Linked DNA regions of Homo sapiens: all the other regions are linked to region 4. The links come from fine-mapping of genetic effects on gene expression. A gene starts in region 4. Each other region holds a variant in brackets. All regions are shown on one strand. Distances are from middle to middle. Region 1 overlaps LINC01094 (long intergenic non-protein coding RNA 1094). Region 2 overlaps ANXA3 (annexin A3). Region 3 overlaps BMP2K (BMP2 inducible kinase). Region 4 holds the start of LINC01094 (long intergenic non-protein coding RNA 1094).

Region 1 (8,056 bases), 21 kb after region 4:
AAAGTTTTTAAAAATTCTTGTGTGCAGTGAACTTTGTTGATTGCCTACTCAGCAAAAAATCATCTCCTGTGTTCCTAATGAACCTCAATTTTGCTTTCCTCTCTTCTAGTCATGTGCCTGGGAAAGATTGATGCCAGCTCCAGAAAGGCATCCGAATGGTCTAAGTAATGCCATCCATCTGTCAGTAATAGATTCAGAAATGGGTATGTGATTCAAGTCTGGCCAATGAGATGTATGCAGAAGAGTGCTGGGTATTCTGGAAAATTATCCCTTGTCATTCAGAGATCCACAGGAATCCAGCCTTTTGCTCCTTGAATGGGATAAGGAAGCACATAATCCCAGTTGCTCTTCCAGTCATCCCAGACCCACAGCCCTGCTTTAGCCATCCTATAGCCATCATATATTCACAAGGGGAGAGCAACTGAGGACAACACTGTGGATCCTTGTGACATAACCAAGCCAGTGAACCAATCAATACATTTATTTATTGTTTGAGCCATTGTAGTTGAGCTTACGTTACTGGCAGCTGAAAGCTGAAAGTTATTCTATCTGCCAATCCTCATCTTGCACGTCTCTTAGTTTTGCTCTTATCTCTCCTTTTCCTCTTTTTCACACATAAATCCCAATCTTTGTTCCAACTCACACTGTCAACACTCTGACCTTTCCCTCTTGCTTTCTTTTCCTCTTCTCTCTGTCCCTCTCCCTTTTGCCTTTCTTTCTGCCAGTGCTACCCACAGGTATATCTTAAATCTTATTAGCCATAGCCATGACCAAAGACTAGGACCACCACTAGGTATAACTGGATTAGGTGGAGTTTTGCTCATTTGCCCTCCTTTGTACTTTCGACATCAACATCCCTCACCCCTCAGCAATTCTCTCCACTGTGCCCCACTCCATATAACAAAAAGTCTTGTGTGCTCTGAAACATCCACCCAAAAACTATATTTTCACTAAAATTCCTTTGGTGATAATGCCTTAACATGGTGGTTTCCAAAGCTTTTTAAAACCATAACCCACATTAAGTATCCTCACTCAGTATACACAGAATATACACATAGGCACTTGATATAGTCTGGATATTTGTCCCTGCCCAACTCTTATGTTGAATTGTAATCCCCAGTGCTAGAGGTGGGGCTTGGTGGGAGGGTGTTTGGATCCCTCATGGCTTGGTGCTGTCTTCACAATAGTGAGTTCTCTAGACATCTGGTCATTTGAAAGTGTGTGGCACCTTCCCCCTCTCCTTGCTTCTGCTCTGACTATGTGACATGCCTGCTTTCCTGCTTTCCTTTTGCCTTCTGCCATGATCATAAGCTTCCTGAGGACTTCCCAGAAGTCAAGCTGATGCTAGCATCATTGCTTCCTGCAAAGCCTGCAGAGCTGTGAACCTCTTTTCTTTATGAATTATCCAGTCTCAGGTATTTCTTTATAATGTGAAAGGAAAATAAACCTTGGGGCCCCCAAATCACTAAGCTAAATGGAAAAGTCAAGCTGGGAACTGCTTAGAGCAAACCTGCCTCCCATTCTATTCAAAGTCATCCCTCTGCTCACTGAGATAGATGTATATCTGATTGCCTCCTTTGGAAAGGCTAATCAGAAACTCAAAAGAATGAAACCATTCATTTGTCTCTCGCCTATCTGTGACCTGGAAGCCCCCTCTCTGCTTCGGCTTCAAGGCTTCCTGCCTTTGCTTCAAGTTGTCGCGCCTTTCCAGACCCAACCAATGTACTTCTTACATATACTGATTGATGCTTCATGTCTCCCTAAAATGTATAAAACTCAGCTGTGCCCCAGCCACCTTGGCCACATGTCATCAGGACTCCCTGAGGCTGTGCCGCAGGCTCATCTTCAACCTTGGCAAAATAAACTTTCTAAATTAACTGAGACCTGTCTCAGATTTTCGGGGTTTAGAGTAGCAATGCAAGAAGGGACTAACACAACACTGCAGGAAAAGTTCTATGAAACACACTTACCTTTACTACCAGTGACACATTCTGATATTACATATTCTGTTCTATTTCATTTTTAAAAAGTGTTTGTCTGTACTCACTAAATTGATGTCATGGATAGTTGTTGTGACCACCAAAAACACTTCCTTCACCCACAGCAGAAATTCTGGTGGTCGTGTGATAAACTTGTCAAAAAGTCCTTTGAGGGTAATTAGACTCATACTTAAACCTGAATAAAATGACAGCCAACACCAACTAAAAGAAGTTCTGTCTGTGTCAATTTGGATACATTGTTTCCCCTAAAAAAATGAAGAGTGAGTGAGAATATATGAATGCTGACACCTGATGTGTTCCTAGTAATTTCAGGGGATCTTTCTGAAATGGCAAAAGTGTTTAAGAAACACCATTATAATTATTTCTGAAAGTAAAGATGTTTCCTGCAAAAGCTATTTGAGTCCCAGAGCCAATTCATTAATTGGTTTTATGTTTGACTTTTTAGAGCCCATTAAATATATCTATTTGGTTATTCATTTGGCAGCTATGCTACTTCTTTAAGAGCTGGGAATGGCAGATTGTCTATAAGAATCATTTTTATAACATGGATTGTGGTAAAAATGTGTTAGCTTTCTTGTTGATAACTACTTGTTATCAGCTAGAACCACTTTTACAGCCTGTACCATGTGAAGGCCTCACATATAAAGTCCATAGCATGTTTGAAAGTCACATGATATCTAGAAAAGCCCTGTATAAACTGGAAAGCATTGTGTAAACACAAAATATTATTATTATGCATTTTTTTAAAGTAAGAAACTCTTGCCTAAGAAGTCAGTCATCCCCATGGTTAGAACATGTCTCCCAAAGTTCATGTGTTGGAAACTTAATTGCCATTGTAACAATATTAAGAGGTGGGGCCTTTAAGAAGTGATTAGGTCATGAGGGCTTTGTCCTCATGAATGGACTAATGTTGTTATCATGGGAATGGGTTAATTGTGGTGAGCCTGGCCCCCTTTTTCTTTCTGCTTCATCTGCCCCTTTCTGCCATCCATCCTTTTGCCATGGAATGACTCCTGCCAGATGCCAGTACTATGCTCTCAGCCTTCCTGGCGTTCAGAACCATGAACAGAATAAATTTCTTTTTTTAATAAATTACCCATCTCTGGTATTCTGCTATAACAGCCAAAAATTGACTAGGGCCTTCATGAATTTTGAATGCCAATGAATTTTAATGTTTTTGTTAATGGTACTGAGTTCTATAAATGTTTTTCCCCACCCTCTAATTGATACGCACACACATGCACACACACACACACACATGCATACATATGCACATACATATTAGACTTTTAAGCCTATATTCAATACAATACAGGCTGGTTGCTAATTTACAAACCCTATTTTCTCTTTTATAAGATATATTAGAAGGTAGGTTTTCTTCTATATGTAGTTATAGTTGTGGTGTGATATGCCCAGAATTACTGTGAGATATGTTAAATGGTACAGTATAGCTTTAGTAGTTAAGGTTTTGGAGACAGAAAGACTCCAAATGCAATCTTACATTTAACAAGGTCTGTGAATTTGGGTGAGTTACTTAACCTTCCAAGCTCTGATGTTCCTCATCTGTCAGATGAGGTTAATATAATGCACCTCACAAAGATGTTATAGAATTGAATTTATCTCTACTCATTAAATTAATTTCATAATTTACTAATGGGTCATGACCACCAAAAACACAGGCTTAACCCACAGAAGAAATTCTGATATTAAGAATCATGGAGCCAGGTGCAGTGGTGCATGTCTGTAGTCCCAGATACTCAGGAGGCTAAGGCAGGAGGATTGCTTGAGCCCAGGAGGTGGAGGCTGCAGTGATATGATTGTGCCACTGTACTCCAGCCTGGGCAACAGAGCGAGA[C/A]CTTGTCTCTAAAAAAAGAAAAAGAAAAAGAAACAAAGCTGATTTAAAAAATTGTGGGCATATTACAAACCTGCAATGTATGTGTGTGTGTGTGTGTGTGTGTGTCTGTGTGTGCATGTAAAGTACTTAGGACTTAGGACAGCACACTTAGTATTTAGCACATAATACCTAGCAATAGCTCAATGAATGGTAGCTTAACAACAATAACTAATGATATTACGACATGTTTATTTCATCACACCTTCACCATGAATAAATGTAGAGATCTAGGACCTAGTACCTCTTGCTTTCCCTTTGGTGCTGAAGCTTCACTCCACTGCTTCCCAAATCTATGTGTCCACCTAGAAATGGGTCATGGTTGCTGAATCGTAGAATAATAATACTGCAAAATTGCTAAATCTCTGAGGGGCGTGTGTGTGTATGTATGTGAGTGTCTGAGTGTGTGTGAGAGAGAGAGAGAGGGAGAGAGGGAGGGATATGGGGAAGGGAAGCAGTGCTTGTCTCTTTCTTCTTGCTAAAGACACTTCCTTAAAAATAAATACACTGGAAAATAATGACAGGAAACTTTACAAAATTAAAAGAGGATGTCAGGAAGTACAGGATGTGAGGTTGTTTTCATTTCTGTCAGTATTTTCTTATTCATATATATTTATAACTTTAAAAAGCAGAGAAGTTCACTATTTCTTCTACTTAAGATCAAATTTATATATAAAAAAAAGACCTGTGACCAAAAAAAAAAGAACCCACTTAATACTTTCTAGCTGCAATTAAGTATCTGATCTGACTACATTATTGGGCAACTGAATAGAATACTTGTCACACTCATTCTCTATTTCTAAAAAATGATGCAGGCCAGGCCCAATGACTCACACCTGTAATACCAGCAATTTGGGAGGCCGAGGTGGGAAGATTGCTTGAGGCCAGAAGTTAGAGACCAGCCTGGACAACAGAGTGAGACCCCATCTCTACAAAAATATTTGTTTAAAAATTAACAATAACAACAACAACAGCAGCAACAACAAAACGGTTGCATTCTCAGACAGTTCACGCCAATGTGGGAAGGATATAAAAGTAAAGTACCCTGAAGCAGCAATGGATAAGAAAAGCTTGGTCTTTTTTTAAAACAAAAATTTTTTTTATTATTACTTCTTTCCCAGAAGACAACTTTCAAACATAGGAACCTAGGCAAATCAACGAATGCTCAAAACTGAAAACCCACTTCCCCCTCTGAGAATAGAGGGTACAGAAATATCAGTACTTTCAATGCTTTAGCAGTCATGTGAATGGTGAGCATTCTATGTTTTTCCATATGCACAGCAAATGAGCACGCTGCTTGCAGCTTTTTCTCCATGAAATGGGGATCTGCATCCCATAGTAGTTACTGAGCAGTACAGTTCCTCTCCAACATTGAAACAGTTTATCTGCAAACAAATTTCTAAAGTTCCTATGTGGCTGGAAGCCAAAATAAAACAACTATGTTTTGCTGTCCTCTGCTTTGCTGAACAGATAGATGTAAAAGGTTGTAGGTGGGCTTCTCTTTATTACTGCACTTGACTTATTAACACCTTGAGACTCGAAGAATAAAGTGTACTTCATCTTGTAAAAGTTTATGATCTAAGTCAAACAATTCAAAAGGTCATAATTTAGCTCCATCTAAGGAACTTTAATTCAAAAAGACAGGAAGTTGCTTCATATTAAAAGTAGCCTCTTCTTTACTTCTTAATAAAATTCCCTAAGAAAATATTTATGGCAGACATATGTTATTTTCATCATTCCTTCCTTGGGGAAACCACTATTCCCTGCTTCCACATGGTTTCAGAGGGGCTGCCTATCACTGTACCCTACCCCCCTTCCAGCCACACTGGGAGCATAGGACACAGGCCTGGCCAACCCTAAAATTATCTGTTCCTGAAATTAAAATAGTGATGTTGAAATAGATATGTTTCTTTCCCCTGGGATGCTAAGCTAGGGCAAGAGATCCCAGAGCTTCCCTGTGCCATCTTCACCACCCTGCATGGAGGAGGTGGAGCAGGTCCAGCCGCAGAAGGAGAAAATGGCAGAGACAGAGGAGCAAAAGGAGAAGGAGGAGGAAGAGGAAAAGAGGGAGAATGGGGAGGAAAGAAAGAGGAAAAAGAAGGGGAAGAGTGGAAGGGGTAAGAAGAAGAAAAGAAGTGTAGTCTAACCTCCACAGAGCTATGATTGAAGCCAACTGATTCCTGAACCTCCTAGATACCTGACTCAACCAATTTCCTTCTCCATTCAAATTAGTTTTAATAATTCTGCAACGGAAACAGGAGGAACTAACAAAGTAGCTAGTGTTTGTTCATTCATTCAACAAATATGCCAGGCACTAAATAGGCATAGAGTCATGATGGGCAACATATAGTCCTTGCCCTCATTGAGCTTATAGCCTGGTTAGGGAAAAAAATATCACACACACACACACACACACACACACACACTCTATTGGAATATATGTATATATATTCAATTTTTTATGTTATCAGGAAAACAGTAGAGTGCTGTGAAATAGCATTAGAAGAGAATTAGGGAGCTATGTTTACAGTATCACTAGAATAATCACATTTAAAAAAAAGGAATGCGTGCATGGTGGTTTGGGAGTCCAGGTCTAACAATCTAAGAGATGAGGCAGCATGGGAGAAACAGAGAAAATGTCCTACCTGGTTAGGAGACCAGGATCCTCATCCTAGCTCCATCAAAAACTGCAGAGGTTTTCCTCATCAGCAAAGAGGTAATAGGTGTCTTTCATTATTTCTCCAGGGTTATAATGAAAATCAAATGATCACATACACCTGATTCACATTTGAAAAGAAGAGTACAGTATATGGTACTGTGGTAGGATACCAGGGTACATGTGGTAGGAAGACTAACAGGAGAACATGGTCTACCCAGTTCAGAAGGCTGGACATGTCCCACAGTCAGGTAGGAATTGAAGAGGAAGGCTGATGGCCCACTAATGGTGGATGAGAGAATTGCTTTGCATTTACAAAGGACATACGACATGCTCCTTATTTACTTATTTATTTTATCCTTTGGCGTGTTAATGAGTACATTTTAAATGAGACAACAGCTCTCAATGATGTTTAAGACAATAATTTTTAAAAACTACTTAAGGTATTTTTACTTATTGTTTCCCATATGGCTTTTGCGCCTTCTTTACAAGACATTTTAGGTCATTTTTAAACCAAAAAAAACAAAGACGGCACCCCCATTTCTCTAACTTTTGAAAATCCAATTATAAAAATAATACACTAATATTGTGAGATATTCAAATAGCATAGGAGGTTATACAGTGAAAAGTCCCTCTCATGATCACCCCTACCTACTCTCCTTTCCCAGAGATAACTAATCTTAACAGTTTTCTCCATTCTTTCACAACTTTATCTGCATATTGGAACTGAGTCTTGAAAACTGAGTAGTAGTAGCCATTTGGCCACTCACAAAGTTAAGGGTTTATTAAATTATATTAGAAAGTATTAATTGGCCTGCCAGTGAATGGGCACAGCAACTGGGTATTTAATGGGCAGCTCCAAACGGAAAGCCCTGGCTGTGCAGCACCCATCTATGGCTGGTATGGTTTCAATCTGTGTCTTTGCTCAAATTTCACGTTGAACTGTAATTCCCATTGTTGAAGATGGAGCTTGGTAGGAGGTGATTGGATCATGGGGCTGGTTTCTCATGGTTTAACACCATCCCTCTTGGTGCTGTTGTGGAGATAGTGAGTTCTCATGAGATGTGGCTGTTTAAAAGTGTGTAGCACCTCTTCCACTTCCTGCTGCTCCTGGCCATGTGAAGTGCTGGCTCCCCCTTCACCTTCCGCCATGATTGTAGTTTTCCTGAGGCCTCCCCAGAAGCCGAGCAGATACCGCCATGCTTCCCATACAGCCTGTGGAACCATGGACCAATTAAACCTCTTTTCTTTATAAATTACCCAGTGTCAAAAAAAAAAATACGTCACCCAGTGTCAGGTATTTCTTATAACAGTGCGAGGACAGACAAATACAATGGCCAAGCTTACCCCGAGGACAGTTAGGATGGTGTTTTTTGGTTTGTGCCTGGGTCCAAGGTCAAATAGCTGGTACCCTTTCAAAACCCACAAATCATTTACAATCTTGTGTTTGTTCTTTGTTCCATTGGTAGAATCATTTTGCTTCCATCTCTCTACCACAACTGGGTATTG
Region 2 (8,056 bases), 52 kb before region 4:
TCTTTGTCTCCTTTTCTGTGTCACTCGCTCCCTAAGAGAGAAGATACAATGGGTTCAGGAAGTCACTATCATGTTGGCCCTCATAAAGGGACCAGATGTCTTCTACAGCTTATTCAGTACAGTGGCACAATAGAGTCTAAATAAAGAGAGATCTAAATTCTTAACTTTTTTCGGTATTCTAAAGTCAATGGTGTGTGAGAGAGAGAACACTGAAACAGGGATCAGGGACTCAAAGTTCTAGTCCAGGCACCTGTACTATTAAAATATTCTATTTGATTTTATACTCTACTGTGCCTCAAAATGGATAAAGTAGTTGTCAACTTAGGTTGAAATAATTTTTTACTCTAATATCCCACAAAATATTTGAAGGAAAGGGAGAGGCTGTGTGAAATGACTTATAAAGTCTCATCTAAATAATTCCAAAATTACAAAATACTTCCCCAAGTTCTAAGAAATGGGATATTCATTCTTCTACTTGATATTTTCAAATTTAAAGTTTTTTATCTAACTAGAATGAAGGATAGATGTAACAATATCACAACCATTAGGTTTAATGATGCCTACTAAATATTATTATTTAGAAAAATAACACACTTTTTTGGTGGATTTTGCTTATATGAATTGCTTTGAAAAGTTACAGATTTCATAAAAAAGAGACTTACTAAAATCATGCTGAAGAAGTTTCCATCTCAGCGCAGTTCTTGCTATTGGATAATCTCATATCACTTTCTATAATTGTCTTTCATTGATTTAAATAGATGAGAATTCTCATGGCTAGTATGGCTAATTTATAGAATTCTTGAGAATGGTGCAGACAGTTCAGATAGCCACATGGTGTCACCTACAACAAAGGGTATAGTGGCTCCAAGAGAATCACCACCCCATGGATGGGGCAGACAGAGATTTAAGACTGATGGGCACTGCACATCACAGGCCATGCAAAAGGGGCTACAACTAGTCAGTACTAAAATATATGAACACACAGTTGGCATTTGTAAAGGGAAATGGCATGTTTTGGGTAGCTTTCTTACTTTTGGGAGATACGAAAAAATATGGTTTAATTATATTCATTAAGATTAGGGTTAGATTCGATAAAACAGAAAAATTACAGTGGCTTACAAAAGGTAGAAGTTTATTTCTATCATATGTAGAAGTCTAGACATTGGCAATTCTAAGTCTAGTATGACAGCTACTCAAAGCTTTTAGGAACTCAGACTTCTTCTTGATTACTTTTATGCCATCACTAAGAAGTGGTCCTTATCTTCACAGTCCAAGATGGCTGCCCAAGATGCAGATATCAGTTCACATGTAAGGCAGTTGGATGGAGGAAGGACTAAGATGAACATGGCCTCATCCCTTTAAGGAGATTTGTCTGCCTTCATTTCATTGTGAATAACTAAGTTATAGAACTGTACTAGCTAAGAGGAAAGCTGAGAAAGTAGTTTTTAAGCTGTGTACATTATATCTTGCTTAAGGTTAGGGTTCTCTTAGTATGGAAGATGGCCAGAATGGAAATTGAAAGGCACACTAGTAGCTCATCCACCCCAGCTTTTCCACTATGCATCCCTTAGTGCCATTGTCAGATGAAATAAACCAAGATTTGCTCCAGAATGACAACTCTTTCTATTCTTTTGCATCTACCACAACACAGTGCAGTAAGAGTTACAAGAAGAATGTACCATCTCACAACAGAAAAGCATGAAGAAATTAAATAAAAGGGCAAGATTTATCTTATCACATACCCATTCTTTGCTAGTGTTGGCATTTAAACTTTTCTCTGTTTTATAATCATATTTTTCAGTTTGTCAAGGCTTAATTTCATTCTGATTTGGTTTCAGTATACAAGAAGAGTCTTGGAGATGACATTAGTTCCGAAACATCTGGTGACTTCCGGAAAGCTCTGTTGACTTTGGCAGATGTAAGGTTTTATTTTTTATTTTTTAACTCCCCAGTAAGCTGCATGCTCAATAACAATTTTTAGGGAGTTTAAAAATAACCAAACTGAGACAATGAGTTCACAATTTTCCTTATGAAATGGTTTGTTCATTTTACATTTTCATTGCCACCAAGCAATATAATGTTTAACCAAGATCATAAAAGCATACATAATGATGTAACAACAAAGAAAACTTATTTGAGTCAGTAAGTGGAGGTGTTTTGGTCAGGTTTCACAATTTTGACATTAGAAGACATTCTGATACATCATCTGACATACAATATTTATTTCCATTATAAGTGTCTCCATTTTAAAGAACAGGTTTATTTTCTTCTGGACTCTGAAGAATAAATATTTCTTTTGTTAGCTTCTAAATTAAATAGGAAGCATGATACAGAAGAATGATCTTTAGAGATGGGAATTAAATTGAGTATCAGTCTCAGGATTAAAAAAAAGAAAATGATTGCTGCAATTTCAGCCTTGCCACCTTGGAAAAGCTGCCAAACTATTAATCATCATGTGACCTAATGAGGCCACACCTTGCTTTCTCTTTTTAGAAGGCTTATGACTTTTATTATAAAGATGGTAAGGTCAAGGATGAGGTGTATTCACAGCTGTGTGTAAGAGAGAACGTGATTTAAACCATAGCTCACCAATTTTCTTTCAGCTGATTTACATAGCACCTAAATGTGAGAAAATCCCAACAACGGTCTCAGCCTCATGGTTGAAACAGCACCTGTCAAAGTGAGGCATTATGCCATTAGGAAGCGATTTATCTAAATTATGGTTTCAGTTACTTTAAATGTGAAAAACTTATGAAGGTTGAACCCACAACACCAAATTTATGAAGCATTGCTGCAAACATATGCTCTCAGAGGTATATATTCCTAAGTGCACATCTGTTTGTGTATGGACATGAATGCACCCACCCACAGGAGGCAGTATAGAGTAGGGCTCTAGGACAGGGTTCTAGAATCAAACAGGGCTGGAATCTCATGCTGCCAACTAGCTTTGTATATTTGGACAAGTTCTTTAAGTCTTAAAGCATTCATTTTCATATCTGTAAAACTAAAATACTAACAATAACAAGTACTCATAGGGTGTTATGAAGATTAAGAGAAAGAGAGAGTATGTGAAGTACTTAGTGATCAACACAGGGTGGTAGTGGTTAGTATTATATTAAGACCGATGATAATCAGCATTTATGTCATTGGAGC[G/A]AGCGTAAGTGAAAGAGAACAAGAAGAAAGCAAACAGCAGCAGGGTATCAGCAGCACAGAAAAGAAACCAGGCAAAAATCAGACAGTCATACAAGGACCTAATGTTTAAAAATAGGAACAAATTCATTTTAAACTATTGTAGCTAAATGTTTCATTCACCTATAATTTGCCAAATAATTCAGGCAATCCCGTGTTTTGGTTTTGTCTCCTGTCTTTCCATAATGTGCTTAAGTATTTGTACATGAACACACATACCACACACACACACACACACACACACACACACACACACACCACTTAAACCATAGAGCCTTTAATATCACAGTTGGGGATCTTTGAGGACTTTTTATTTTTTCTTTTTTGAGACAGAGTCTCACTCTGTCATCCAGACTGGAGTGCTGTGGTGCGATCTCGGCTCACTGCAACCTCTGCCTCCCAGGTTCAAGCAATTCTCCTGCCTCAGCCTCCCTAGCAGCTGGGATTACAGGCACACGCCACCACACCCGGCTAATTTTTGTATTTTAGTAGAGACAGGGTTTCATCATGTTGGCTAGGATGGTCTCAAACTCCTGACCTCAATCAATCCACCCGCCTCAGCCTCCCAAAGTGCTGGGATTACAGGCGTGAGCCACTGCGCCCCGCCTTTGAGTTTTTTTTTTTTTTAAATAAACTTTACTTTTTAGAGCAGCTTCAGATTTATGGAAAAATTGAGCAGAAAGTACAGAGAGCTCCCATATGACCCTATTCTACTCTCTCCTTTCCTTTCCATTATTATTATTATTATTATTATTATTTTGAGACAGGATCTGGCTCTGTTGCCCAGGCTTGAGAACTATGGTGTGATCTTAGCTCACTGTAGTCTCGACCTCCTGGGCCCAAGCAGACCTCCCACTTCAGCCTCCTGAGTAACTGGGACCACAGGTGTACACCACCACATTCAGCTAATTTTTTTTTTTTTTTTTTTTTTTTTTAGAGCGAGAGAAGGTCTCACTCTTGCATTAATTAGTATGTGTATTTATTATAATTGGTGAATGAATATTGATACATTATTATTAACTGAAGTTTATAGTTTACATTAGGGTTCACTCTTTCTGTGATATAGTTCTATGGATTTTAATAAATGTATAATGTCATATGTCTATCATTACAGTATGATAGAGTAGTTTCACTGTCCTAAAAATCCTCTGTGCTCTGCCAGTTCATACCTTCCTCCCCACCAACTACTGATCTTCTTACTGTCTCTATAGTTTTGCCATCTCTAGAATGTCCTATAGTTGGAATCATACAGTACGTAGCCATTTCAGGCAGGCTGGCTTCTTTCACTTAGCTATATGCCTTTAAGGTTCCTCTATGTCTTTTCATGGCTTGATAGCTCATTTCTTTTTAGTACTGAGTAGTATTCCATTGTATAGAATATTTATTTTACCTGCTGAAAGGCATCTTCTTTGCTTCCAAGTTTGGCAATTATAAATAAAACTTCTGTAAACATTCATGTGCAGATTTTTGTATGGACATGTTTTCAACTCCTTTAGTTAAATAGCGAGGGGTGCAATTGCTTGATTATATAGTAAGAGATATTTAGCTTTATTAAAAAACTGCAGAACTGTCTTCCAAAGTGACTGTACCATTTTGCTTTCATATCAGCAGTGAATGAGAGTTCCTGTTGCTCCACATTCTCACCAGTATTTGGTGTTGTCAGTGTTTTGGATTTAAGCCCTTCTAATAGGTTGTGTAGTGGCATCTTATTGTTTTAATTTGTAATTATCTAATGACATACAATGTTGAGAATCTTTTCATGTGCCATCTGTGCGTCTTCTTTGGTGAGATGTCTGTTGAGATCTTTCAACCATTTTTAAATTGGGTTGTTATTTTCATATTGAGTTTTAAGAGTTCTTTATGTATTTTGGATACAAGTTCTTTATCAGATACATGTTACAAATATGTTCTCCCAGTTTGTACCTTGTCTTTTCTTCCACATAAGACCTCTGTGTTGGGTTGGGCACAGTGGCCCACACTTGTATTCCCAGAGATTCAGGAGGCTGAGGTGGGAGGACAGCTTGAGGCCAGGAGTTTGAGACCAGCCTGGGCAACATAGCGAGATCCCATCTCTAAAAAAAATTTTTAAATTAGCTGTGTGTGGTGGTGTGCACCTGTAGTCATATTAGCTATTCAGGAGGCTGAAGCGGGAAGATGGCTTGAGCCTTGGAGTTCAAGGTTATAGTGAGCTATGACTGCAGGACTACACTCTGGCCTGGCCAACAGAGAGTGAGAACCTGTCTCTAAATATATATATATATGAATTTTCGGAGGAGGGAACTGAGGCCCCCAAAATTGTGTGATTTGCTAAAAATTTCATGACTAGTCAATGGCAGAACCAGAACTGGAGCCCTGAGTACATGATTTTTCTGTGCAACCTGTCCTGCCTTAAAGAAAAACCACTAAGATCCCCTGCTGGTTGAAGTACTATGTGTTAGAATCTTCTATCTTTAAAGGATGGCCCTTGTTTTCGTCCTCCTGTTTAGGGCAGAAGAGATGAAAGTCTGAAAGTGGATGAGCATCTGGCCAAACAAGATGCCCAGGTCAGTAACAAAGCGGGAAAACATTTCCTTTACCTATTCTCCTATGTGGCTGCCTTTGCATTTATGTGAAAAGGGAGAAAAATAGCAGCAACAGGGACTTTTCTTTTTTTTTTTTTCCTGTTTGAAAGAGAAGCCTGAAGCTTGGGGATCGGAACCCTAACTTTTTGCCTGCCCCAGTGGTAGTTATCATTCTCCTTGGCTCCTGACAGCCCAATTTTTGATTTCTAGTCTTCTGAAAGTGAGAGATTTAGATAATAGATGATGGCACTGACCTCTGAAATACAACTCCGATTCTTCTCATGTCACCTCTCAAAAAGAAAATAATTGTGTCTCTAATATCATTCTCTTGTGAATAGATTCTCTATAAAGCTGGTGAGAACAGATGGGGCACGGATGAAGACAAATTCACTGAGATCCTGTGTTTAAGGAGCTTTCCTCAATTAAAACTAAGTACAAACTCACATTACAATCCTTTGTGTTGTATGTTGTTTTTACAAATGTTTTTGCATTTAGTATACAAAGATCTAGAAAAACGAAGTTTAAAATTGCGAAGTCTGTTCCAGTTATTCACACTTCAGGAAACAAAATGGGAAAGCTGTATTGTAACTCAAGGAAGTACTGACACTACACTTTTGTTTTTCCATAGAGGCTGAGTAGATTACCTAGTGAGTACCAGGTAATAGATGGGGGAGGGAGGTGGCAGGGAGAAGAAAAGAGGCCACCCTCTAGGGTGAGAGTAGAAGGGCTTGTTCCTGTGGAATGGAGAAGCCCAACTGCTTCCACTCCACCTAACAGTTCTCCCTAGTTAGCCACTTCCAGAAAAGCCAGACACTGCAGGTGAGTCTCTGTTGACACATCAATACTGATTAACCTTTAGCTATTTCTGATATGAAGGTAAGTGGTAGAATGGATCAACTCTTATCGTCAGACCAGCTATTACATGGAATTGTGGGCACCCGCCCTCTTGCTCATGGCATCTCCTAGAACTGTTCTGGAAGCAACAACACCTAGAAAACTAAACCTTCATTTACTGTGAACATCTTCTGACTGTGGCTTCCAGATGCTAGTTTACAGAACAACCACACAGCAAGACCAAGCTTATGCTGAGTTGACGGAACAATGAGTAAACATAAGGATATTACTGTGACTTTGAAATTCTGAAATTGTTCTTTCTTAACTTTTGCATTAAAATCACATTTATTTTATAAAATAATGACAACAGTATGTGATAGTTGCTTTATTCATGTCTTTGTTTGAAAAACAAAAACCAGATAACCCTAGGTCTCTCTCCAAAATTTCTTTTTTTAAAAATGTATTGGGGAAAAATATACTTGGCTTACAAAATATGCCTGTATACTTGGTGACATATGTACAGGTTTTGCTTGGGGCAAATACTGATCAAGAAATTCAAATGCCTTCTGGGAGGTGTGAAGTAGGCCATGCCACCTTAGGAAATGATTCAGCACAAGGAAGTCTTCAGAATTAAGATTTCTTTACCAGAGAAAACATATTTGACTAGTGATTATAGTATCATTTCCCAGGTGCTGCTATAAATAAAATTTAAAATAGCCCAACTTACTGGATAAATTATTTATTATTTAACTATTTAGGCTATTTAAAATGCTTACTGCTTGAGAGAAGGGGAAAGAGAAAGAGAGATCATTGAAGAAAATCATCTAGGGAGTTTGGGTTTTGTTGTAGATGATTTCCTTAAAAAGGAACAAAAGAAAAACAAAAACTTCTGTGCCCAGATTTTCATGGTTTAAAGAGGGAGTTTTTTAGCTTGCTACTTGATCTTCTGCATATCAAATAAAAAACTAGAATATATTCAAATGTGCTCAACTGCGTTGCTTTAAATAATTTTGTGGTGCTTCTTTTTAGCATTTGATGAATACAGAAATATCAGCCAAAAGGACATTGTGGACAGCATAAAAGGAGAATTATCTGGGCATTTTGAAGACTTACTGTTGGCCATAGGTAAGACTTCGAGTGCTGGTAAACTAAGTTACTTTGCACTTGCTTTAACTCAGTGCCGAGGCCTGCTCCTTTTGGGCAAGAATCCTGACTGATCCATTTTTTTTGCTCCCTACAGCCCCCAACATGGTCCAGGATACACACAGTACGCTCAACAAATATTGTTAAATGAATGCTTGAAGAAGTTATTTTTTTAAGTCTTTTTTCTTTTTCTTTTTTGAAACAGGATCTCACTCTGTCACCCAGGCTGGAGTGCAGTGGTGTGATCTCAGCTCACTGCAGCCTCAACCTCCTGGGCTCAAGCAGTCCTCCCACCTCAGCCTCCCAAGTAGCTGAGACAACAAGCATGT
Region 3 (7,497 bases), 190 kb after region 4:
AAAATATTGTGGGCTATTTGGACTGTGCTGTTAATTCAATTAGTGATAATGTATGGGAAGTCCTTATCTTAATGGAATATTGTCGAGGTAAGTATTTTTTTGCATTTGTACTGTAATAAAAAGTTTCTCCTTAAATGGGTTACTAGGTATCTTTGTTATTTCCAGGGTAGCTGCTAACTAATTCTAGTCACTTATTGTAATCTTACCTTTCATTATCTAATTAGGAATATTGTTAAAACATTATTTAAAACCTAGTCATAGTTACTGCAGTTATGATATGAGCATGTAAACGCAGAATGAGAAAAGTGATATTGAGTTTAAAATAGGAAATCTAAGCAGGTACAGAGTTACAGTTCTTGCTCTCCATAGAATTCTTCTGTAATCCAACCAAGAAGAGGATAATATGTCAATATTAATGTTGTAAGATTTTTCCAGAACTCTACTACGTTATTGTAAACATTAAATTTAACAAATTTGGAGGATGCATTTTGATCTATAGACTTTATAAACCTGTTTTATGTAGTCTCTTGGTGGTGTTTGTAAACATTAGATATAGAAAATCACATTTTATTTGGACCTAATGTGATGTTTTAAAATAAATATTTACTTGTATAGCATACCTTAATCATCATCATCATCATAAAAAAATTCCTGACATTTAAATTTTTTTTTTTTTTTTGAGACGGAGTCTCGCTCTGTCGCCCAGGCTAGAGTGCAGTGGTGCGATCTCGGCTCACTACCAGCTCGGCCTCCCGGGTTCATGCCATTCTCCTGCCTCAGCCTCCCGAGTAGCTGGGACTACAGGTGCCCGCCACGACGCTCGGCTAATTTTTTGTATTTTTAGTAGAGATGGGGTTTCACCATGTTCACCAGGATGGTCTCGATCTCCTGACCTCGTGATCCGCCCGCCTCAGCCTCCCAAAGTGCTGGGATTACAGGCATGAGCTACCGCGTCTGTCCTTAAAAATTTTAATGTGTGGAAAGGTGGAGGCAAATATTCTATTTCCTACAAACTTGCAAGCCATATTTGGCACTTGTGGTTCTAGGGAGCCCTGGTTTACATTTACATTCTCTTCAGAAAGTAATGATTGTTAATTACTATCCCAGAAACTCTTACAGTTTCCTGAAGGTTGCGGAAAAAGAGGGGGATGATGGTGATGTTGGAGAAAATATGATCTTGTTTACTGCAGTATTTTAAGGAGGAAAGGATGGGGAAAATGAAGTGAATCAATGTGACAATACCTACCGTGATGTATTTGTAACTTATTTCCATACACAATATTTAACAACCAGATGTTTCTTGATTTTTCTTTATATCTTATCTTCTCTACTATAAAGTACTGTACTGTGATCTCTTTTAGGAGAAGATGCTGATTTTTTTCTACCCCATTTTCCTGAATTCTAGCATTTATAGTGCTAATTCTTAGAGTTTACTTGTAGCCCTTGACTACTTGTAACTTTTAAAAGATACTTGAATCAAGCATAATCATAACCTTGGATTAATTTAATTGTCACTTAGAAGACATCTTAAAAGGGGAATCAAATGACCTTCAAGTTTTAGGGGCAAATTTTATTTTAAAGTAGAAGAATGATCATATCTGTTTTTTGAGGAATGCATTGTTTTGTTTTAAAAATTTTTTAGAAATAGTTATCCGGTATTCAAATCATCAAGCTCTGTGGTATATGAAATTTAAAATTTTTATCAAAGTAATTTGTATATATGGTTTAAAAAGTCAAATAGTTGGCCTGGTGCGGTGGCTCACGCCTGTAATCTCAGCACTTTGGAAGGCAGAGGCGGGTTGATCACAAGGTCAGGAGATCGAGACCATCCTGGCTAACACGGTGAAA[C/T]CCTGTCTCTACTAAAAATACAAAAAAAAAGTTAGCCGAGCGTTGTGGCAGGTGTTTGTAGTCCCAGCTCCTCGGGAGGCTGAGGCAGGAGAATGGCATGAACCCGGGAGGTGGAGCTTGCAATGAGCCGAGATCGCGCCACTGCACTCCAGCCTGGGCACATAGCGAGACTCCGTGTCAAAAAAAAAAAAAAAAAAAAAAGTCAAATATCTTAAGCTGTGGCTGAATCAGTACCCTCCTGCCTCATCCCTCTTCTCAGAGGTAGTCCCTTTAAAATATTTGAGATGTTTCTTATATTTACTTCCATATTTCCACACTGCATTATATAAAAGAGAATCAGTAATTTTAGTGATTTCTTAAGGGTACAAAAGAGAAAGGACTTAGAAAATCAAGGGAAGTATATAATTCTGTGCATGAAGAGGCTCTTGAAAGAAAGTTTTCTAGTGCTACTTTTGATGTTTTAGATATTGTCTCTAAGAAAAGATAGGAATTTTACTTCTAGTATAGATATTCTCAGGTTTTGGACCAAATCAGTGTTTATTTTCCCATTTAATGGTGTCTGTAGTTGTATTTTCTTATCCTTTTTTTTTCCTGGAATTAGTAATTACCTCGGTTTTCATTTGCCTAATTTTCTTCATGTATATTAATATTTTAGTCCCGCATTTTCCAATAGAAGTAAAAATAATTGGCTGGGCGCCGTGGCTCACACTGATAATCCCAGCACTTTGGGAGGCTGAGGCGGGCGGATCAAGAGGTCAGGAGTTCGAGACCAGCCTGACCAACATAGTGAAACCCCTTCTCTACTAAAAATACAAAAAATTAGCTGGGCGTAGTGGTGGACGCCTGTAGTCCCAGCTACTTGGGAGGCTGAGGCAGGAGAATGGCGTGAACCGGGGAGGTGGAGGTTGCAGTGAGCCAAGATCGCTCCACTGCACTCCAGCCTGGGCAACAGAGCGAGACTCTGTCTCAAAAAAAAAAAAGAAGTAAAAATAATTATGCAGTATGTTTAGACATTTTAATATTTGTTTTGATTTCATTTTTTCTTCCCTTAAAAACACCCCTTGGGGAGACTTCGATCATCCTGCTTAATTTTGAACAGCAGTTAGCTGTCCTTCTGGAAATTACCTTTGCCTCCCTTCTGTCTTGGATTCCCTGCTACTTATGCCACACCTTTGTTTTCACTCACTAATTTGGAAGACTTTGTTTTTCAGTAGCTTTCTGACTGGATTTTTTGGAGAAGGATTTTTGAAACCTTGCATATATAAACATATTTTTATTCAGTGCCCACATTGATTGTTACTTTGGCTAGCTAAAACATTATAGGTTGGAAATAATTTTGATCCAGAATTTTGAGGACATCATTCCACTTTTTTCTTAGTGTTGTTGACAAATTGATGTTATTGTGATTGCTTAATTTTTCTATGTGACATCTTTTCTCCATGGACACTTTTAGTTTGAATCTTTCCTTTATCTACAACGTATTGAAATTTCAAGATATACGTGCCTTACTGTGTGTCATTTTTGGTATGCTTTTTGTGGCGTTTTTGTCTTCTATTTTCTGTTCTCTTACTGGACTTCTCATTTTCTTTCAAATGTTCTGAGCTTTCTAGATTGATAATCCTCTGATTTTCTTTTCTTATTTTCCTTTTCTTTATTCTTTTATTGTTGGAAGCCTTCCTCTATCTTTTAGCTCTTCTATAGAATTTTGTATTTCTATTATATTATTTTTAATTTCCAAGGACTCTTTTCTTTTTTTTTTGAGACGTAGTCTTGCTCTGTCACCTAAGCTAAAGGGTGCATAGTGCCATCTCAGCTTACTGCAACCTCTGCCTTGTGGGTTCAAGTAATTCTCATTCATGCCTTAGCCTCTTGAGTAGCTGGGATTACAGGTGTGCACCACCACATCTGACTAATTTTTGTAATTTTAGTAGAGATGGGGTTTTGCCATGTTGGCCAGGCTGGTCTTGAGCTCCTGACTTCAAGTGATCCACCTGCCTCGGCCTCCTAGAATGCTGGTATTATAGGTGTGAGCTACCACTCCCAGCTTGACTCTTTCGTGTTCTCTCAGTGTTCTTTGCTAAAGTACACCTTGTTACCATGCAGAGATACTGGGGGGAAAAATACACCTAGTTCTTGTTTTAGCTGCAAATCTTTTGTTGTCTGTGGATATTAATTTCAGTGTATCCATTTTTCTTTCTTTCCACCCCTGACCCTTCTTTCTTTGTTTTTGAGACAAGGTCTCACTCTGTCATCCACACTGGAGTCCAAAGTCAAACTTCAGGACTCAAGTGATCCTTCTGCCTCAGCCTCTTGAGTAGCTGGGATTAGAGGTGCACATGGCCATGCCTAGCCAATTTCTTAATTTTTAATTTTTTGTAGAAACAGGGTCTCACTTTGTAGCCCAGGGTGGTCTGGAACTCCTGGCCTCAAGCAGTCCTCCCACCTCAGCCTCCCAAAGTGTTGCGATTAAGGGCAGAACCAGTGTGGCCAGCTAATGTTAGTTTTAAATTTTTTTCTTTTCCTTGCTGTATTAGTCCATTTTCACGCTGCTGATAAAGACGTACTCGAGACAGGGCAATTTACAAAAGAAAGAGGTTTAATTGGACTTACAGTTCCATGTGGCTGGGGAAGCCTCACAATCATGGTGGAAGGCAAGGAGGAGCAAGTCACATCTTATGTGGATGGCAGCAGACAGAGAGGGTTTGTGCAGGGTAATGTCCCTTTTACATCCCTTTTTAAAACCATCGGATGTCGTGAGACTTATTCACCATCACGAGAACAGCACAGGAAAGACTTGCCCCCATGTTTCAGCTACCTCCCGATGGGTCCGTCTCACAACATGTGGGATTTCGCGATGAGCTTTGGGTGGGGACACGGACAAACCATGCTTTCTCTTTTTTTGTTCAAAGTTTTCTTCGGATGTTTTACCTGTTAAGGTTACTACATGTATTACAGATCAGTTGCACCCTCTAAGTGGGCAATTATTTCTTTATAGAAGAAATCCAGAAGGCCTGAATGGAGTATGCTCAATTTTCTCAATGGAGTATGCATGATATCTTTTCTCAGATGAATCAATTAGATAAGTTCCTTTTTCTTCCATGGTGGGGGAGAGATTTGGAAGGGCAGAGAATAGAGGACTAAATACTCTCCACTTACTTCCTCTGTAACAGCTAACTGCATTACATAAAATTGTTTAACAATTAAGGTATTTTAGTAAGGGAACCTATATAATGTATACAGTTCAGGGACATTGGCTTTTATTATGTAGGGATAAAACTGTACAGAGAGTAAAACAATATGTTATATAGCTCATATCCCCTTACGTGGTTTTAGGTATTCAATGTTTACCATCATCTTCTGTCAAGTGTAATCATCTTTTGTCTTGGTAAATTCGTGGTTTGGTACTGCTTTATTTGCTAATATTTTGATACATAGATTTAAAGAGAAATTATGTACTTTAGGTCTCAGACTTCCAGAAATCAGTATTGGTATTTTGAGCACATTTATATTATTGTATGAATAATTTGTGAGTAAATTATGAAAATTTATTAATTTTTAATGTATGTTTTTAGGAAGTATTCTACATATGTTTCCATGGATTATGTATCTGTTAGTATTTGCTTAATTAAAAAAAATTCCAAAACTCAATAGCATAAAATAACTTTCGTTTATTATCACCTGTGTATCCATGGGCCAGCTGCTTTCAACTTAGCTTGGTTGGGTGGCACTGCAGATTTTGGCAGGGCTTTCTCACATGGCAGTGGTTAGCTGGGATTAGTTGGAGTAGCTCTGCTTCACGTGTCCGTCATCCTCTTTCTGTCACTAGCAAGCTGTCCTGTGGATGGTTTTCTCATGTGGATGATAGAAACATAAGAAGGCATGTAGAAGCATATGAGGCCTCTTAAGGCCTAGTCTTGGGACTAGGACACTGACGCTTTTACCTGTTTCTGTTGGCCAAAGAAAATCACATGACTGAGCCCAAATCAAAGAGCAGGAAATTTATCTGCCTCATTTATTGGGACAGACTGCAGAGTTACATGACAAAGTGCATGTAAAAAGTGAAGTTTGAAAATTTAGGGCCAATAATGCAATCTACTACAGATAAAATTGAAAAATCTTGTTGTATTAGTCAGGGTTTTCTAGAGGGACAGAACTAATAGGATAGATATACATATAAAGGGGAGCTTTATATGTATATAAAGTATTACCTCATGAAATCACAAGGTCTCACAATATGCCATCTGTAAGCTGAGGAGCAAGGAAGCCAGTCCGACTGCAAAAACTGAAGCAGTTGGAGAGATGTTCAAGGGCAGGAAGCATCCAGCATGGGAGAAAGATGTAAGCTGGGAGGCTAAGCCAGTCTAGTCTTTTCCTGTTCTTCTGCCTGCTTTTTATTCTGGCTGTGCTGGCAGCTGATTAGATTGTGCCCACCCAGATTAAGGGTGGGTCTGCCTTTCCCGGCCCGCTGACTCAAATGTTAATCTCCTTTGGGAACACCCTCAAAGACACACCCAGAATCAGTACTTTGCATCCTTCAGTCCAATCAAGTTGACACTCAGTATTAACCATCACAGTTGTAAAAATAAAAAAGTCATATTATCAAAAATTTAAATGGAGTAATAGGTTGTATTTTTGGTTTTTTTTTAACTAAGTGGTAATATGTGTACTCAGATAGGTTGTTGAACACCTTTTTTAAGAGATTAGAAAAATGTTGCTTTTTAATGTTAGTGATGAAATTTGGCAGAGTGTAAAAAGCTTTTGTTTTGGGTTAATGATACCTCTTTGGAAAATATGGAAAGAGTTGAGAGTTGTAGGCATCTCATTTTATTTTATTTTATTTTTATTTATTTATTTTTTTGCAGTTGCAAGATTTAATAGAGTGAAAACAGAGCTCCCATACAAAGGGAGGGACCCAAAGAGGGTAGCCATTGCCGGCTCAAATGCCTGGGTTTATATCCTGATCATTGTCCCTCCCTCTGTGCTCTCAGGCGATAGATGATTGGCTGTTTCTTTACCTCCTGTTTTTGCCTAATTAGCATTTTAGTGAGCTCTCTTTACTACCTGATTGGTCAGGTGTGAGCTAAGTTGCAACCGACGTTTAAAGGTGGGGTATCTCATTTTAAAAAACCTTCAGTATATAATGTTTGATTTCCATATCTGACTTTTTACCTTTTTTTTAAATTAGAATACCTTCTTTTAAGCTTTATTTTTCAGAAAACTCTGAGTTTTGAGTAATGAAATTTTATTTATTTCATTTGAAATTCAGCCCAAATATAGTTTTTAGTTTTCTCTAGGGACTTGTTTTTTGTGATTGAGGATTTCTACTTCAAAGGTCTCTGGACAGAAGAAAGGGAATTAAAGTTTGTTTAAAATTTATTCTGCTTATTTTAACATTAAAAGTTTGGAAGAGGTGGATTGAGTTCAAGGTTATGATTTCTTTAGCTATGATATGATATTTCAAGGATGTGAATGTACACCAAGAAAGCATTTTTTTATTCTGTTTAATTATTCTTAAACTAGAGAAGCCTGGGTTTAATTAAAAGACAGGGAGTCTGCCAAATGAGGGAGTGGTGGAAGTTGCTGCATGGTCAGGTGCCCCAGTCTTGTGAGATAATCTGAACAAGTTACACCTGAGTTTTCTGAAAGTTG
Region 4 (8,056 bases):
CCCAAGCAAGCCCTTAACAGTTTCCCTTTGTTGTCATCTGCACGGACAACCTGTATGATCAGACATGCCCATCAGTTTCTTCCTGAATCTTTACTCTCAATACCTGTCAATCCAGTGCAGCCCAACTTAGAAGCTCCTCTGCCTGTCTCCAGTAACCTGCAGCATCAGATGATTCCAGTTTGAATGGGAAAATGCTTTGTTTCTCTTGACTAAAAAACTGGGACTAGCAGGGCATATTTGTGTTTTCAAAGACGAATGTATCAGTCCAAGAAAGTTTCTAATGCAAGTAAATTTTCTAATTAGCAATGGTCCCCAATCTTTTTGGCACTAGGGACCAGTTTCCTAGAAGAGAATTTTTCCACAGACAGGTTGGGGGTGAGGATGGGGTTACGGTTTTGCAATGAAACATTTCCACCTCTGATCATCAGGTACTAGTTACATTCTCATAAGGAGCACACAACCTAGATCCCTTGCATGAGCAGTTCACAATACGGTTCATGCTCCTGTGAGAATCTAATGCCACTGCTGATCTGATGGGAGGCAGAGCTCAGGCGGTAATGCTCACTCGCTTGCTGCTCACCTCCTGCTGTGTGGCCCGGTTCCTAACAGGCCACAGACCAGTAACAGTCCACTGCCCAGGGTCCTAGGGACCCCACCTCTAATAGGAAGAAATTCAGAAAAGGGGATGGGAGGTGACATTTTACAGAAAAGGAAGCTGAGTCTCAGAAAGTGTTTGTCTTGGCCAAAAATAAGCAGCAAAATGTGAAAATGAAATTTCACTCTCTAATCATTTCCTCCAAGCCTTGTCCTCTTTCTGTCCCCACCCGGCACCCTTCGTGAGCTGGCAATAAAAATCTCCCTCCTAGGTTTTCATGCTTATAGGAGAAGTCATTTGCTCAGAGAATCCCTGAGATGCATGGGGACAGGACTAGCCTTCTCCCCTTCTCCACTTTACTCCATCTGGCCTTGCAGTGAGCCCTCTCTATGAGTAAAATTGTTGACGAGACCATTCACTCAATTATAGCATTTTATGTGATATTATTTCATGAAATAAAATGTTCAGCTCTTGATTACCAGCCTCCCAGTTTTCCACCAAGGATGTGATGTGTTCTCAATGTACATTTAAGTTCTGTGAAGATTTTCCATTCATACATTCATCCAATAAATGTCAAGACATAAAGAATGCCAAGTCCCAGGAAGAGAAAGAAGAGTCCCATAGAATAAGGGGTTTAATTTCATGAAATGATTTGCATCAAATTCACTGGCCTCTCCTTGACTTCCAAACTCATTATCTTTCTAACCCAAGGCTCAAGGTAAGCCTGCATTCTTGTGACTCTTTCTGACAGTCAATCGTAACAAATCATGCTACCTCGGCTAACTGTCTTCACTTGATGTTCTACCCAGAAAAGCACAGTTGCTTTTCCTTCTGACCACAGCAGCCCTAGCCACACCCTGCATTGTCCAAGGGCATAGAGCCAAATTGCTGCTGTCACTGCTGCCACCTTTTGCTCCCTGACACCATCTAACAGAGCCTTGTGTCCCTACTATACTCCATGTCTTCCATCTCTAGGCTCCTCTTTTGCCACTGAGGAGCCCAGTAGGTGCCCACATTAGACACACTTCCTCACTGGCCAGACAGCAGGTGGGCAGAACCACAAACTCACTTAAGCTGCTGTCTTGAGATGCAGCTTTCTCAGGGACAGCTGGAGAGACAAAGTACACAGTCTCTAAGTGCAGTGGTCATGTCTTGTTCATCTTTACATCTTAGCACCTAGAATAGTCTTTAGCACTGGGTAGGAGCTCTGCAAATATTTGTGGAAAGAAGGAAGAGAAGGAAACCAGAATACTGAGGTGATTTGCCTAAGACACCTAGTTTAGCAGAGAACTAGATACGAATCCTGGCTCCCAAAGTCCTGTATCCATGCTCATTCCACTCTACCACTCTAGGCTTACATTGGCCTCCTGAAAGAAGGAAAAATGAGATAAATAACAAGGGAAGGGAGAGAGGATACAGAAGAGAACACCCAGTAAGGAAAATTTGGGGTTGTATTTGCAGGTGGCATAGCCACAAGGCCAGAGCTGATGTTTTCCTGGGCCCGAGGTGGTCTACTCCAAGGCAGATACATTGTAGTTATGGATAAATGGTGCTATTGATCAAATTCTCACATCTGGAAAAGGTCTAGCAAAATTGTTAATTCCAGGCATAGTGAAAGTAGCTCAAAAATATGTATTTTCAAAATGTAAATATGGACAATTACCATTATCCCACCTCCAATCTCCAAGCTTTTCTTTATTTCATTAATCATTTAAAAAATAAATATAATCTTTTCCTACCTAACCCAGCAAGATAAATGTGTCCTAAGAATTTGCTATTATTATTGCTGTTACTTAAAACATCTTTAGTGAACCAAGCATAGCAGGTATTAATTAATCTGATTTAATTAGAATGAGTCAAATTATATTCAGAAACCCCAGTGAAAATTTTAATAAGAAATTTCTTTTCAGAATATGACTTTGATGCAATTTTACTTTTTTCATGAGGTATGGACTGAGGAAGAGGAAGGAAGAGAAAGTAGGTAAAAGGAAATTTTTTTTTGCATTGCCATACTGTTAACCAAGACTAAAGACCAGAAGCAGAGAAATGGAATAATTAAAAAGTGATGACAATGTAATATTTAGGCATGCTGTCACACAGAGTCCAACAAAATGGTTTTAGAAATTATCTTTAATTCTTTTACTTACTGGGGAAAAAAATAATCCAGAAAACTATAAAGAGATAAATATTTCCTATTATCCTGTTGTTTGAAAATAACTACAGTTAGTATTTTAGTATATAGCCTATTCTACTGTTGCAAAATAGGTGCATTTCTAAGAAATCTCAACTTATCAAAAGAATGTAAAGAAACAGGTAACACTGGTTGAAATTGGAGAAGGATGGCTGGGGAATAGGGATGGAACAAAAATTTCTCATTTAGAAATACTAGCATGTGCCTTTTAGATTTTGTCCTTTAAAAGTGTATCTCCTATTAAAATTAAGCCAAATTGCAATTTAAAACTAACTTTTTTAAAAAAAAATGTTTTAATGGGAACAGAAATGTTAAAACTCACAGTAGAACAGAATTTTAAAAATAGTAATTTTAACAATAAATTTGTTTTCATAACCATAAATGTATTTGGTTATTGCTAGCTTTAATTTTAAAAAGGTAGATCAAAACCTACAAAAGGAAACACAAACTTCCTTACACTTTCCGCCACGTATTCAGCACCGTCTAATGCCTCATCACTGTTGCCATGCAGGTCTGCCTGCAGTACAGTCCATTACAGCCAGGGGAAGCAGCAGCTTTTTATCATTTCCCAGTTCCCAGTCAGTTCTGGTTATTACTAACAGTGATTCATTAAATTATGTTCAATAAGCAGCTAATTGTGCTATGTCCAATTTTTGTTAGGGACACTTTAACTGTAGGAGAAATTAATGCCTGTATAATTTTCCAAATGCTTTCCCCAGGCGTGTATACATATACTTTATATAGAAGTTATCTTTTTAAATTTGTTTTTACCAAAAAAAGAATCATAATAAACATACTACTTTAGAAGGTTTTTTTCACCCAACAAAGCATTTTGAAATTCTTCTCATTTTAACTTACCAAATTTCACCTTATCTACAATAAAAGTTTAATCCCTTATGAATGAGATTTATCTTTCAAAAAAGAAATGAATTTGCTTTTCTCCTTTCATACTGCCAGTATTTTCAGTATCTTTATGATGTTACTATACGAACATAAAAAATCAGTGTGATTCCATTACCATTTAAAGCCAGACACTAAGACCAATGGAGGCTGATATTCCTGTAGGCCATAGCAACCCTGGGAAATCTTGCCTTTGCTGAAGCTATACCAAATCCAGAAGTAATTGAAGTCCCCCTAAGGTTTCAGGTCCCCCCAAAGAAGGCAGGAGTTGTGCATTACTCAGCATTCTCAGATCTATTCTAAAGCAGATTATTTTCTTAGATTTTGATTCAATTCCATGCAATTCAAGCATTTTTATTTAATAAGTACAAGGCATTGTGCTCAAGGAGAAGTGTACAAGCTAAACTGGATCATTCTAATTTTCCTGAACACTTACAACCTCGTAGGAAGACATACATACATAAGTAAGTATGATACAAGGAAAATTTGTAAGACAAAGTAAATAAAAGTATTATAAGAAACACAGAAGAGGGATAGATTACTTTAGGCTGAGTGAGGTGGCTTTTGAGTTCCTACTAGAAGGGTGTGTAGGATTGTGACTAGAAGAGAGAGGAAGGTCTGGATGGAGCAACAAGAGTCTGGGCTATTAACACAGGTTTGAGTCAGGCTGACCGGAGCTGTAAAGCCCTTCTCGTTCTCACTGTGTGTTCTTTTCAGTTCTGTCTTCCTGAGGCTGCTGTTTCTGGGCATGGCCAGGGGATCTTCAGACTTTACAAACCAGTTGTGCAGAGCCAGGCATTTCAATAAGGAACAAAATGCTGAGTAACAACATGAAGTCAGAGTGTTGCTTGCCAAGAGCTGGGAGGCCTGGGTGGTTTCCCAATCTTAAAGAAGCAGAAGGATATTAAAGTGAGCCTCCCAAAGGAAAACGTGGATCTACTTACCAACGCAGAAAATGATACACACGGATTCGATTTAGGTAAGTGCACCCCCTGTGATGACTATTGGTCACTTCCAGATCACATGGACTAACTGTAGGTCTCAACTATTTTGACTTTTTTTTTCCAGAACAGACTAATACATAACTAACGGCTTACCTTTGTGAAAAATATTTTATGCACTGTAGAACAGATAATTTTCAGTCCTGGGCCAAAGGGGGAAACTTTGGAGAGAATTAAACAGGAAATGACTCTGCTACAAAGAATTCAGGAGCATGAGTGAAGTGAATAAACAATCCAGGCACGATTGATGAATTCTAGATGTCCTGGGAATAACAGGGCTTGTTGCCAGCTCAGATGGGTGAAATCCTACTCTGATGAAAGGCTCCAGGGCTGCAAGGAGACCACTCCTACATCCATCACATCAGTGTCACAGGTTTACCACCTGCTCAGCGATTATTCAACATCCTAAGGCCTTTTGCCCCATTACACACGTTTGACCACTTAGTCCAGGAATGAGGTACCAAATACTAGGGAGATCTCATAAAGCCTGCAGCTAAAATAAGCAGAGGAATCAGAAGCTGGACAGAGTGACCCAAGGAGGACTGGGGATAACTCAGGAGTTCCTTTTTTTTTTCTTTTTGAGATGGAGTCTCGCTCTGTCGCCCAGGCTGGAGTGCAGTGGCGCGATCTCGGCTCACTGCAGCCTCCGCCTATTGGGTTCAAGCAGTTCTCCCGCCTCAGCCTCTCAAGTAGCTGGGACTACAGGCACCCACCACTACGCCTGGCTAATTTTTGTATTTTTAGTAGAGACGGGGTTTCACCATATTGGCCAGGCTGGTCTCAAACTCCTGACCTCATGATCCGCCCGCCTCGGCCTCCCAAGGAGTTCCTTATTTTAATATTTGCTGAAAATTCTCCACCATAATTTAAACATGTAATGATAAGAAAAATATCTGCTTCTGACTGAATATTTAGAAAACACAGAGCTATATAACATAGAAAAAAACCCAAGTCGACCACTGACAAATAATTATTAGGACTATTTCTTTTCATTCTGTGTTCTCTGCACATATGAAAGTAAAAAATTGGAATCATATTGTATATACAGTTTTATATTAATTTTTTTACATAGTCACTTTAATAACAATACATATGCTATGTTATCACTATAGAATGTAAATTCAGGTTAGACAAGAAAATTTCACAAGTGTAATAAAGCATTCTAATTAGCTGGGCGTGGTGGTGTGCACCTGTAGTCCCAGCTACTCTGGAGGCTGATGTGGTAAGATTGCTTGAGTCTGGGAAGTTAAGGCTTCAGCGAGCTGTGATCATGCCACTGCACTCTAGAGCCTGGGTGACAGAGCAAGACCCCATCTAAAAATATATATATATAAATTAAGCATTTTGCCTTTTATCAAAGTTTGTGTATAGTATCTGGCCAAACCCGCTTGCTCATTAGTCACTTTCATTATAGGTAATTTGTTTAGTTTCTTGTTTATGATTCTTCTGGAGAAAATTTGAAAAGTGTTCTTCACTTACCTTAGCATGAGTGCTTAAAATAGGATGACATTTAAAAATTATTCTAATATAACAGCAGCTAAAATATAATTCTGCACTTATAAAAGAGCTAAACTGGAGTTCATAATTAAGTTATTCTCATGTTTACAATTATGATTCTGAAATAAATACTGTTACTATGAAGCTCTATTGTAAGCTTTCTTGATTCGGTTTAGACACACATACATACACTTAAGAGTTGTGAGAGGCGTTACAAGTTGTTAATGTATTCCATGCACGTTTCAGAAAAGTTCTAATAGAGACAGCCAGTTCACAAGACAGGAAGAAGAAAAGTTAGATTAACCAGGGCAGATAAGACTCCTATATAACATACAAAGCATGTGAAATTCTTCAGCAAACTGGGAATACTTCAGGGATCGCCAGCTATCTTCTTTAGAACTAATTTCTTCTTTCTTTTCTTTTCTTTTCTTTTCCTTTCTTTTCTTTTCTGTTTCTTTTCTTTTTTCTTCTTTCTTTCTCCCTTCCTTCCTTCCTTCCTTCCTTCCTTCCTTCCTTCCTCCCTCCCTCCCTCCCTCTCTCTCTCTCTTTCTTTCTTTCTTTCTTTCTTCCCTTCTTTCATCTTTCTTTTCTGTCTCCCTCTATCACCCAGGCTGGAGTACAGTAACTGCAACCTCCGCCTCCCAGGTTCCGGTGATTCTCATGGCTCAGTCTCCCAAGGAGCTGGGATTACAGGCATGTGTCACCACCCTCAGCTAATTGTGTGTGTGTGTGTGTGTGTGTGTGTGTGTGTGTGTGTGTGTGTGTATGTATTTTTGGTAGAGACAGGGTTTTGCTATGTTGGCCAGGCTGGTCTCAAACTCCTGGCCTCTAGTGATCCACCCGCCTTGGCCTCTCAAAGTGCTGGGATTACAGGAATGAGCCACCACACCCGGTCCTAATTTAATCTTTACAGTCTAAGAAGGTGGTTTTAAAGTTTTAACATCATCAAGTGGAATTAGGTGACATGTTTCCTTTGTGTTAACTTGACTTCCCTGAATGACCTAGTTAGTGAACTAGTCACTAGTAATTTGGTCACCAGGCAAATCAAGCATGCAAGAAAGGAAGCCAGTATTCAAAATACCGTGTTATCGTCTGAACCCACTCAAATAATTTATTTCCAACATAAACATGTAACCTCAATAATGAGATGTCTAACTAAAGTAAGGTCCTCTTACAAGATCAAGACAGCATCCTCCTTCCAAGGCTTAGGCTTTGCCCAGAATTCCTAATACACAGAACAGCCCATACCAACAGTCATTGCTTCTACAACACATGTGGATCAGGAGAAGGGACCTTTTAGCATTTCCTCTGCTCTTCCATTTGTATAATCCTTATGGAACAATTGCTGGAAAGCCTGCCATTCCAGTGAGAACAAATGGTGGCTCTTCAACTTTTCGAACAAGTTTGGATCCTTGATCTTTATCATAGGAAGAAAGGGAAACATCTGTGTCTGTTGACATAGTGATTGAAGAATCTTCCTAGAGTGAGAAAATCTCTCACAATCCAACTGACCTCTATATTAATTTTTTATCTAACATATTATAGTCATTTGCCATGTTATTAAGCATTGTTGTAAACATTGCTTTTAATGCTTATATAATATTTTATCTTACAGGTGTATGACAATTTATTTAAAAGTTCCCCTTCTTGGGATGCTTAGAGTGTTTCCACATTTTTAAATTATAAATAACACTTATGGACATCTGTACATATAAATCTTTTACCACAAATAAAATTGTTTCCCTAGGATTCACGTAAAAAAACATGGAGCAAGGTTTGAAGCTGTTGAACTCTATGGTTCCTTCTTCTTCTTTCCAGGCACGCTACATTCAAATGACTTGGAAGAGCAGGTTCTCTGAGCCAGGATACTAA

Evidence for each region. PIP is the estimated chance that this variant, and not a neighbour inherited with it, causes the effect.
Region 1: its variant is the best candidate, but not a certain one, in a credible set for the expression of LINC01094 in whole blood (TOPMed, PIP 0.74).
Region 2: its variant is the best candidate, but not a certain one, in a credible set for the expression of LINC01094 in whole blood (TOPMed, PIP 0.66).
Region 3: its variant is the best candidate, but not a certain one, in a credible set for the expression of LINC01094 in whole blood (INTERVAL, PIP 0.87).

Annotation. Positions count from the first base shown.
Region 1 is chr4:78,662,809-78,670,864 of GRCh38, forward strand. It overlaps LINC01094 (long intergenic non-protein coding RNA 1094), which reads left to right. Exons shown (of 3, transcript NR_038308.1): 2 at 110-164. Among named protein-coding and RNA genes, the nearest start is that of LINC01094, 21 kb to the left of the region's middle. The variant C/A (reference allele first, on the strand shown) is at 3,856.
Region 2 is chr4:78,589,706-78,597,761 of GRCh38, forward strand. It overlaps ANXA3 (annexin A3), which reads left to right. Exons shown (of 13, transcript NM_005139.3): 7 at 1,839-1,918; 8 at 5,676-5,732; 9 at 6,089-6,182; 10 at 7,614-7,709. Among named protein-coding and RNA genes, the nearest start is that of ANXA3, 42 kb to the left of the region's middle. The variant G/A (reference allele first, on the strand shown) is at 3,154.
Region 3 is chr4:78,833,601-78,841,097 of GRCh38, forward strand. BMP2K (BMP2 inducible kinase) reads left to right here. Exons shown (of 16, transcript NM_198892.2): 3 at 1-87. Among named protein-coding and RNA genes, the nearest start is that of BMP2K, 61 kb to the left of the region's middle. The variant C/T (reference allele first, on the strand shown) is at 1,849.
Region 4 is chr4:78,641,599-78,649,654 of GRCh38, forward strand. It overlaps LINC01094 (long intergenic non-protein coding RNA 1094), which reads left to right and starts at 4,396. Exons shown (of 3, transcript NR_038308.1): 1 at 4,396-4,665. It also overlaps the pseudogene HIGD1AP13. RefSeq lists an enhancer at 4,033-5,232.